2 separate regions of the Homo sapiens genome follow, and region 2 is linked to region 1. Evidence: fine-mapped expression QTL. A gene starts in region 1. The other region holds a variant in brackets. All regions are shown on one strand. Distances are between the middles of the regions.

The links. PIP is the estimated chance that this variant, and not a neighbour inherited with it, causes the effect. A credible set is the group of variants that fine-mapping cannot tell apart.
Region 2: its variant is the best candidate, but not a certain one, in a credible set for the expression of FNTB in tibial nerve (GTEx, PIP 0.86).

Annotation. Positions count from the first base shown.
Region 1 is chr14:64,985,314-64,989,577 of GRCh38, reverse strand. FNTB (farnesyltransferase, CAAX box, subunit beta) reads right to left here and starts at 2,683. Exons shown (of 12, transcript NM_002028.4): 1 at 2,481-2,683. The coding sequence starts at 2,624. The region is part of intron 3 of CHURC1-FNTB (CHURC1-FNTB readthrough); the gene reads right to left. It overlaps LOC107984655 (a long non-coding RNA gene), which reads left to right and starts at 2,465. Exons shown (of 2, transcript XR_001750792.2): 1 at 2,465-2,898; 2 at 2,979-4,039.
Region 2 is chr14:65,014,514-65,019,034 of GRCh38, reverse strand. It overlaps CHURC1-FNTB (CHURC1-FNTB readthrough), which reads right to left. Exons shown (of 14, transcript NM_001202559.1): 6 at 3,319-3,410. FNTB (farnesyltransferase, CAAX box, subunit beta) reads right to left here. Exons shown (of 12, transcript NM_002028.4): 4 at 3,319-3,410. It also overlaps a transcript of MAX not described here. Among named protein-coding and RNA genes, the nearest start is that of MIR4706, 28 kb to the left of the region's middle. The variant G/A (reference allele first, on the strand shown) is at 2,271.

The DNA of each region.
Region 1 (4,264 bases):
TAGGAAGCAGGTAACAAGCATTTATTTTTTGTTTGTTTTTTTTTTTAATTTGAAAAGCTTTCATCTTAAATAGACACAGGGTCTTGCTATGTTGCCCAGGCCAGTACCAAAATCAGTATAGTCGTTTTTTGTTTTAAGAGACAGGGTTTTACTCTGTTGCCCAGGCTAGAGTACCGTGGCTCGATCATGGCTCATCTGTGAACTTCTGAGCTCAAAAACAATTCACCCACCTCAGCTTCCCAAGTAGCTGGGACTACAGGTGCATGCCACCACGCTCAGCTACTTTTTTTTTTTTTTTTTTTTTTGGTAGAGACAGGGTCTTGCTATGTTGCCCAAGTTGGTCTCTTGGGCTCAGGTGATCTTCCCGCCTCGAACTCCCAAAGTGCTGGGATTACAGGTGTCAGCCATCAATTTGTTTTTACTGGCAATGGCACAAAATTGAGCTATCAGTAAATGGAAGCTTTAGTTAAAACTGAAAGAGTACTAGTATATCCTCTGTAAACAACTCCTCCTAACAAGGTTGTTACTTTTGATGAATGTATCATTAACCTACCAATGTGGTAGGTCTCTAAACCTCAGTCTTCTCATCCATAAAAAGTGAAAGGATTGAATGATACCACATATGGAGAGCATTTAGCACTGTGCTGAGACTCAATAAATGGTCACTAACATGATTATTAAAACAGTGAGGAAGGCCACAAAAATGAGATACAACATTATCATCCTACTACCTGAAACTGTTCATCCTAGACTCTAATAATGTGTGCTGGAATAACAACATGAAAAAGAAATATAAGATTCTTTACTGTCTGCCATACCGTTGGGTCTAGATTTGAAAGATACTCGCACCAGGAGCAGTGGCTCACGACTGTAATCCCAGCACTCTAGGAGGCCGAGGAGGGCAGATCACTGGAGGTCAGGAGTTCAAAACCAGCCTGGCCACATGGTGAAACCTGTCTCTACTAAAATACAAAAATTAGCCAGGCGTGGTGGTGGGCGCCTGTAGTCTCAGCTACTCTGGAGGCTGAGGCAGGCGAATGGCGTGAACCCGGGAGGCGGAGGGTGCAGTAAGCCAGTGCATCCCAGCCTGGCAACAGGGCGAGACCCCATCTCAAAAAAAAAAAAAAAAAAAAAGGCAATCCCATAGTCTAAGGTCAGATAATAAGTAAAACACTTGACCTGAATCAACTCAGCAATCCATCATTTAGGAATTCTGCAAAGATCCTGTAGGTTTTTCATCAATGGGAAATTTCTTTACAATCTTTTGCAGTCAGCCTTCCCTGGGACACACTGGTAGGCAAACCAACCTGGAGAATTAGCTAGATTCGAGAGGTGAGGATTTCCTTTGCTACCCTAAATTCCATGAAGTTTAAATCTCCAGTTAAAATATTTTCTCTGCTACTTTGTGAATAACCACGTATCAAGCCCTTGTTTCTGTTATAAATTTATAATTCTATTTAGTCATAACTGTACAATAAAACAATTATTGTTACTAATTTTGCCAAAGTACAGGCTTCCAACTTAAAGTAGGAAATACAAAACAGGTCTCTCCAAGGTAAAGCCTGGAGACTGATCTCACTAAGAGATCTTATTTCAGTAAGCAGCAGAATGTTCATTTATTAGTGTTAAGAATTATCCTAACCACTTCTCCTAGGGACAGATGGATAAACAGTTCCACATAGCAACCTTGGGAACAATTCCAATTAGGGAATAAGAAGAAAAACAAAACTATGGTTTTGGGCATATGAATATATACTCATTCGCCAAACACTTTTCAAAATGATAGGTTCGATCCTACTTCTAGGCCTTAGGGAATGATTAGTAGTCCAAAATCCATTCTTTCTATTAGATCACTTTCCAAACTGTTTTCCTGCCTGTCCCCCAACCAGGCTCCTGGTCAGGAGCTGTTTTATTTCCTTGTACTTCCATCGTTTAATATTGTGTCCGACACGTAGCTGGTGCTCAAATGGCTGAATGACTACCAAAATGCCCACCCACGAGGCGGGCCCCCAAACCTGGCACTGTAGGTCAAAAATTAAACAGATCGTGAAACGGCATGACAGCAGCCTGGCCCTGCTCTCTGCCTCCAGAAGCTGAGGGCAGGTTGGGAAAAGTGCACTATGCACCCCAGAACCTCCCGAAGTACTGGCAGAACAGAGTGGGCTGTCCGACCCGCACGGGCTGCCTCTGTCCTCCAGGCATAGAACACGATTCTTCTCGTTCTTTAGGGCAGAGGGGACTCGGCTACTGCCCTCTCCTCCAAGCCCAACCTTGAAACGACCCTTCCCCAAGCTGGCCGCGCAAACGCTCCACGACGAAGCCCAAGCCTGGGCGCCCGGAGCTTCCCAGAGGAAAGGCACCGCGGTGCGCTGTGGGAGTCGTAGTTCCCCGGTGAGTTCCGCACCCGGGCGGCCCTACGAACGGGACTCGCGCTCCCAGAACACATCGCGCGGGCGCCTCGCCCAGTCCTGCCACCTCACCTGTTCTATGGACGTGACTGTTTCCACCGAGTCGTCCTGCAACCGCTCTCGCGCGTGCTCGGGCCTCAGACTGTACAGCGGCTCTGACCAGACGGGGGAGGAAGATGGAGGGCAATAGTAGGTGAAAGAACTCGGAGAAGCCATGATCAGGAGAGCAGCAGACAGTGTGTAGGACTCTGCTTCGTTAAGCAACAACGCGCATTGAAACTCGAGCGGGCTAAAGCGCTACGGCGAGCGGATAGAGGCAAAAAGATTTTGAACGCGAATGTCTCCTCCCGCCTACCCGTCTTTCGAGTGAGTTACTGAGATGCTGCCGCCCCCCATTGGGCAGAGGAGCTGCTGCAAGAGCGTAGAGTCCTGAAGCGCAAGGGTGTCTACATCCGAATTTCATTTCAGCGAGATGGCGTAGGACGCCTCGGTTTGTTACGCAAATTGTTAAAGAACTGTAACATTCTGCTAATTCTCACTTAATTGTAATGCAATTGTTTGCAATTTCAGGTGCCCAAGAACCCAATGAATGTTAAGTTTGAAAGCATTTCTGACAGCTCTACTGATTTGCCTCAGTCAGGCAATTACTAAAAGAATTATTGTGCACCTTGGGGTACTTGACAGCCTCCCAGGAGAAGGCAGCAGCTGCTCAAACGTGCAAGGACGCCGTCTCAGTATCACTCAGTGATGGAGGGAGGGGGGTATTATGATTTTCTCCTGTCTCTTGGAGGTTACACTGCAGTAGCGAGAACTGAAATGCAGTACAAGGAACAAGGATAAGTGAAATAGACAGTCAGTCCGCAGATATTTATGGAACACCTGCTATGTGTCAGGCATTGTGCTAGGTTCTAGGAATACAAAAGTGAACAAAACGAAGTCCCTTCCCTTGGAAACCTTACATTCTAAGAAAATCGACAGAATTGAATGTATCCAACGCAATAAATATATGAAGACTTGTGATAAATGAGATGAAGGAAAATAACAGGGTCTATGAGAGAGACTAAAGGGGTAAGAAACTAATTGAATTGTATGGTCAGGCCAAGCCTCTCTAAATGACCTTTCATTTGAGATCCGAAGGATGACGAGGAGTCATCCAGAAGAACAGTATGGGAAAGAACTCCTGAAAAAGGAAGAAACAGCAGCTTTTAGAAGACATGTGCTGGGCACGGTGGCTCACGCCTGTAACCCCAGCACTTTGGGAGGCTGAGGCAGGAGGATCACTTGAGGAGTTAGAACATCCTGGGCAACATAGCAAGACCTCATCTCTATTAAATATCAAAAAAATTAGCCGGGCGTGGTGGCGCATGCCTGTAGTCCCAGCTGCTCGACAGGCTAAGGTGGGAGGATCTCTTGAGCCCAAGAAGTCGAGGCTGCAGTGAGCTATGATTGTGCCACTGCACTCCAGCCTGGGTGGCAGAGCGAGACCCTGTTTCAAAAAAAAAAAAAAAGCAAAACAAAAAAACAAACAAAAACCATAGGCTCAAGTGACCCTCCTGCCTCAGCCTCCTGAGTATCTGGAACTACAGATGCTCACCACCACGCCCAGCTAGAATAAAAGAAATTCTTATTGATTCTTATGGAGTGGACTTACTCATCACACTTGCCTCCAGAACAACCAAGTTTAAAGTTGTGATTTTTAGGAAAACGCTGCTACCTTTGGACAAGCAATAGAAGAGAATTTATTTTAGGGCATGCATCAAAAGTACTACACCAAAAATTATAATACCAAGAGATTAAACTGGGGGAGTTGTATGTAGGAGATTATAGAAGGTATGATAACAGACATTCCGGGTACA
Region 2 (4,521 bases), 29 kb before region 1:
AGACTCTTGTCTCAAAAAACAAACAAACAGCCTCCTGAGTAGGATTACAGGCATGCGCCACCACGCTTGGCTAATTTTGTATTTTTAGTAGAGACGGGGTTTCTCCATGTTGGCCAGGCTGGTCTCAAACTCCCGACCTCAGGTGATCCACCCACTTCGTTCTCCCAAAGTGCTGGGATTACAGGTGTGAGCCACCGCGCCTGGCCTTTTTTTTTTTTTTTTTTTAAGACAGAGTCTCACTCTGTCCTCCAGGCTGGAGTAGAGTGGCATGATCTTGGCTCGTCGCAACGTCCACCTCCCAGATTCAAGCAATTCTCCTGCCTTAGTCTCCCGAGTAGCTGGGATTACAGGCATACACCACCAAGCCAGGCTAATTTTTATATTTTTAGTAGAGACAAGATTTCCCCATGTTGGCCAGGCTGGTCTCGAACTCTTGATCTCAGGTGATCTGCCGACCTTGGCCTCCCCAAGCCCTGGGATTACAGGTGTGAGACACCGTGCCCAGCCCAGAAAGTTTATAAAATCACTTTTAACCCCATCGTCCAGAAATAACTACTACATGTATCTTTCTGGTTCTATCTATGCATATCATCATCTATATTTTTAATGTATGTAAATTAAATCTTTTAAACTATTTTCATTTCACATCTCTCTATATAAATACATATATTTTAACATACAAATATACACATTCATATATTTATTGAGACAGGGTCTTGCTCTGTTGCCCAGGCTGGAATGCAGTGGTGCCATCATGGCTCACTGCAGCCTCAAACCCCTGAACTCCTGTCTCGGCCTCCTGAGCAGCTAGAACTAGAAGTGTGCACCACCACGCCCAGCTATTTTTATTTTTATTTTTGAAATGGAGTCTCACTATGTCGCCCAGACTGGTCTTGAATTCCTGGGCCCCAGTGGTCCTCTGACCGTGGCCTCCCAAAGTGCTGGGGTTACAGGTGTGATCATGCGTGGCCACATTTATACATTTTTTAATGGTTATATAGTATTTCACAGAATGTACTGCACCATAAATGACTTATGTTTTATTTTTTAAATTTATGTATTTTATTTATTTATTTTTTTGAGATGGAGTGTCACTCTGTTGCCCGGACTGGAGTGCAAAGGCGCAATCTCGACTCACTGCAACCTCCGCCTCCTAGGTTCAAGCGATTCTCCTGCCTCAGCCTCCCGAGTAGCTGGGATGACAGGCATGCACCACCATGCCCAGCTAATTTTTGTATTTTAGTAGAGATGGGGTTTCACCATGTTGGCCAGGCTGGTCTCAAACTCCTGACCTCAAGTGATCCACCCACCTCAACCTCCCAAAGTGCTTGGGATTACAGGCGTGAGCCACCACACCCAGCTTTACATTTAAAAAAAATTTTTTTTAAACATTCTCTACTGTTGATATTTAATTTAGATTGCTTCCAATGAAAGGCCCTTTAAAGGCTCCTCTCTTCCTATGTGACATTGCCCCAGAAGCGGCGCTGACACTTCCTCAGAAAAGCCTTCACTATAAAACACCAAGTACACAGCCTAGAAAAAAACTCAGTCGATTTTGGCTCGAGTTCTTCCACCTCAGGCACCCCCTGTGATTCTCTCTTCCAGTTTTTCATGGGTCTGCGGCCTCCTCCATCCAGCGTTCAGATCCAGGCTCACAGAAATCCCCATTTTTTCTTTCTTCTCTCACACCCAACTTTCCCATTGTGCAAGAGTGAAGGGAAAACTTTCCAAATATCCTGATTGTGTAGGAGTGAAGGGAAAACTTCCCAAACAATCCCCAGGCCCCCGAGCTGGTATTTCAAAAACACACGAGGCTGGATGTGGTGGCTCACACCTGTTATCCCAGCACTTTGGGAGGCCGAGGCAGGTAGATCAGCTGAGGTCAGGAGTTCAAGACCAGCCTGGTCAATATGGTGAAAGCCTACCTCTACTAAAAATACAAAAATTAGCCAGGCACGGTGGTGGGTGCCTGTAATCCCAGCTACTCAGGAGGCTGAGGCAGGAGAATCGCTTGAACCCGGGAAGCAGAGGCAGCAGTGAGCTGAGACTGTGCCACTGCACCCCAGCCTGGGTGACAGAGTGAAACTCTGTCTCAAAAAAAAAAAAAAAAAAAACCACGTGGGCCTTTCTTTGACAATTAAATTCCTGTTACTGCAGAAACTGTGTCCAACTCTCCTTCCAGTGCTGGAAGCAGCCAGGCTTGCAGTGGCATCCCGATGATCAAAACAATGCACTTGCCTCTCCCTCAGAAAGCATCCTACGTACCACAA[G/A]GGTTAATGGCCTAATTCTTTATTATCTTCCCCATCCACATTCATCACAAGACACCCTGCCCAGGAAGGCAAGAATGAGAGGTTATTGTTAAGACAGAATGAATGAGACAATGTGCAGTTCTGTTCCTCTGACCTGACAATGTGACTGAGGCAGGGGCTCTGTGACCAGAGAGGGGCCCCGGCTAGGCCTCTGTGTGTCCCAGCACAGCTGCCTCCTTGTGCTGTGGAGAAACAAACCTGGCTCAGAAGTCTCTCATCCCAGATGCTTCGACCTCAAGAGCACCAGAGGAAGCTGAGAAATTCGAGATGCTGCCTAGAGCCCATGCTGCCTCTCAGTGGATCTCTTGGATCCAATTCCTGGCTGCCCTTTCTTATTCCAGGTATCCCTAGGACTGGAGTCATGATCAGTCTTTTCTTCTTTAATATATAAATGGTGATGAGTGTCTGGGAATGAGATGCCAGATCACGAATGCCATCTGTACAAGGATCTTGGGAAGAAGCTCAGTTGCTTAGATCTCTAATCATCGATCAGGTTTAGGAAAACTGAGAGTCATGGCATTTGTATGCCACACCAGTAACACATCCAGTCCCATCAAGAGCTACATGGTCGCTCCAAGCACCGGGAGCGGGGAGGTACTTCTATAGAGGTGCGTAGGAAAGGCAAAGGCATTTTTGTTCACTGGACTGGCACGTGCTTCCCCACAGAAGCTGTTCAAATGCATACTGTACTTTCTGGCAAAATCTTGTCTCTCAGAGTTGATGATTAAGACTTTTCTCAAAGACCAGAGTCAAGAGCCAAAAGAAAAGGCCACAGAAGAAACCAGAATCCTTCTCTTGGAAGTTCAAAGTCTTGTTCTACCCACCAGCTTACATTAGTTTTCTAAAGTGGAGGAGTTTCAGGAAGTTGCCGGAGGTCATGAGAAGAGCAAAGATTTCTTTGTGGCACTGTTTTTTTCCATTCCAAACAAACAAAACAGAAACAAAACAAAATCCCAAACTCAAAATACAATTTCAGAGAACACCCCAGATTTCCCAAAGACAGACTCACTCTGTAGCCACTATCTGGGGGATGGGTTCATCTAGCAGTTCCAAGCTGTGCAGGATCCAATAGCAGAGCCATGGGCGGCTGGCATCCAGACACTGGGAGAGAGACAGGAGAGAAAACATCCCTTATTCACAATCACTCCAAGACACTGCTGCCAAGGCTGTATCTGTCTCACTCCCAGCAGCCTGGCAAGGGGGAGGAGGGCACCCTTGCTCAAACAACAATCAGTGAATAAAGGACACTTTGCTTTGTGGCCTTAGCCAGGAGCTGAAATGACCATCTGTTAAAAAAAAAAAAAAAAAAAAAAAAGATAACAAGGCTGGGCGCGGTGGTTCATGCCTGTAATCCCAGCACTTTGGGAGGCCAAGGTGGGTGGATCATTTAAGGTCAGGAGTTCAAGACCAGCCTGGCCAACATGGCGAAACCCTGTCTCTATTAAAATTACAAAAATTAGCTGGGCATAGTGATGTGCGCCTGTAATCCCAGCGACTTGGGAGGCCGAAGCAGGAGAATCACTTGAACCCGGGAGGCAGAGGTTGCAGTGAGCCGAGATGGCACCACTGCACTCCAGCCTAGGCGACAGAGCAAGACTCCGTCTCAAAAAAAAAAAAGAAAGAAAAGAAAAAAAAGACAACAGGATTAAAAAAAAGATGACCCTGAACCCAGTGGATCCCTCCCTGGCAGGCATCTAAGGAAGGCTGAGCAGAGGACTTCCTACAGGCCAGGAGGTTAGGGGCTGCTATTTTCTCGGTATAGAACCAAGGAGATATACATTCTCTGAAGAGATTTCCTAGCTTAACTCAATCACTGATTCAACAAATATTTGATAGTATCTACTTGTGCCAAGCACTGTATTAGACACTGGGGGGATGATAATAAAATTTGGTTTCTACCGTTTATTTTTTTGAGACAGGGTCTCGCTCTGTCACCCAGGCTAGAGTGCAGTGGTATGATCTCAGCTCACTGCAGCCTCAACCTCCCGGGCTCAAGCAATCCTCCCACCTCAGCCTCCTAAGTAGCTGGGACTACGGGCACACACCACTATGCCTGGCTAATTTTTTAAGTTTTTATAGAGACAGCATCCCACTATGTTGCCCAGGCTGGTCTTGAACTCCTGGGCTGAAGCAATTCACCTGCCTGAGCCTCCCAAAGTGCTGAGATTACAGGCATTAGCCACCATGCCTGAACTGGTTTCTGTTCTTGAGA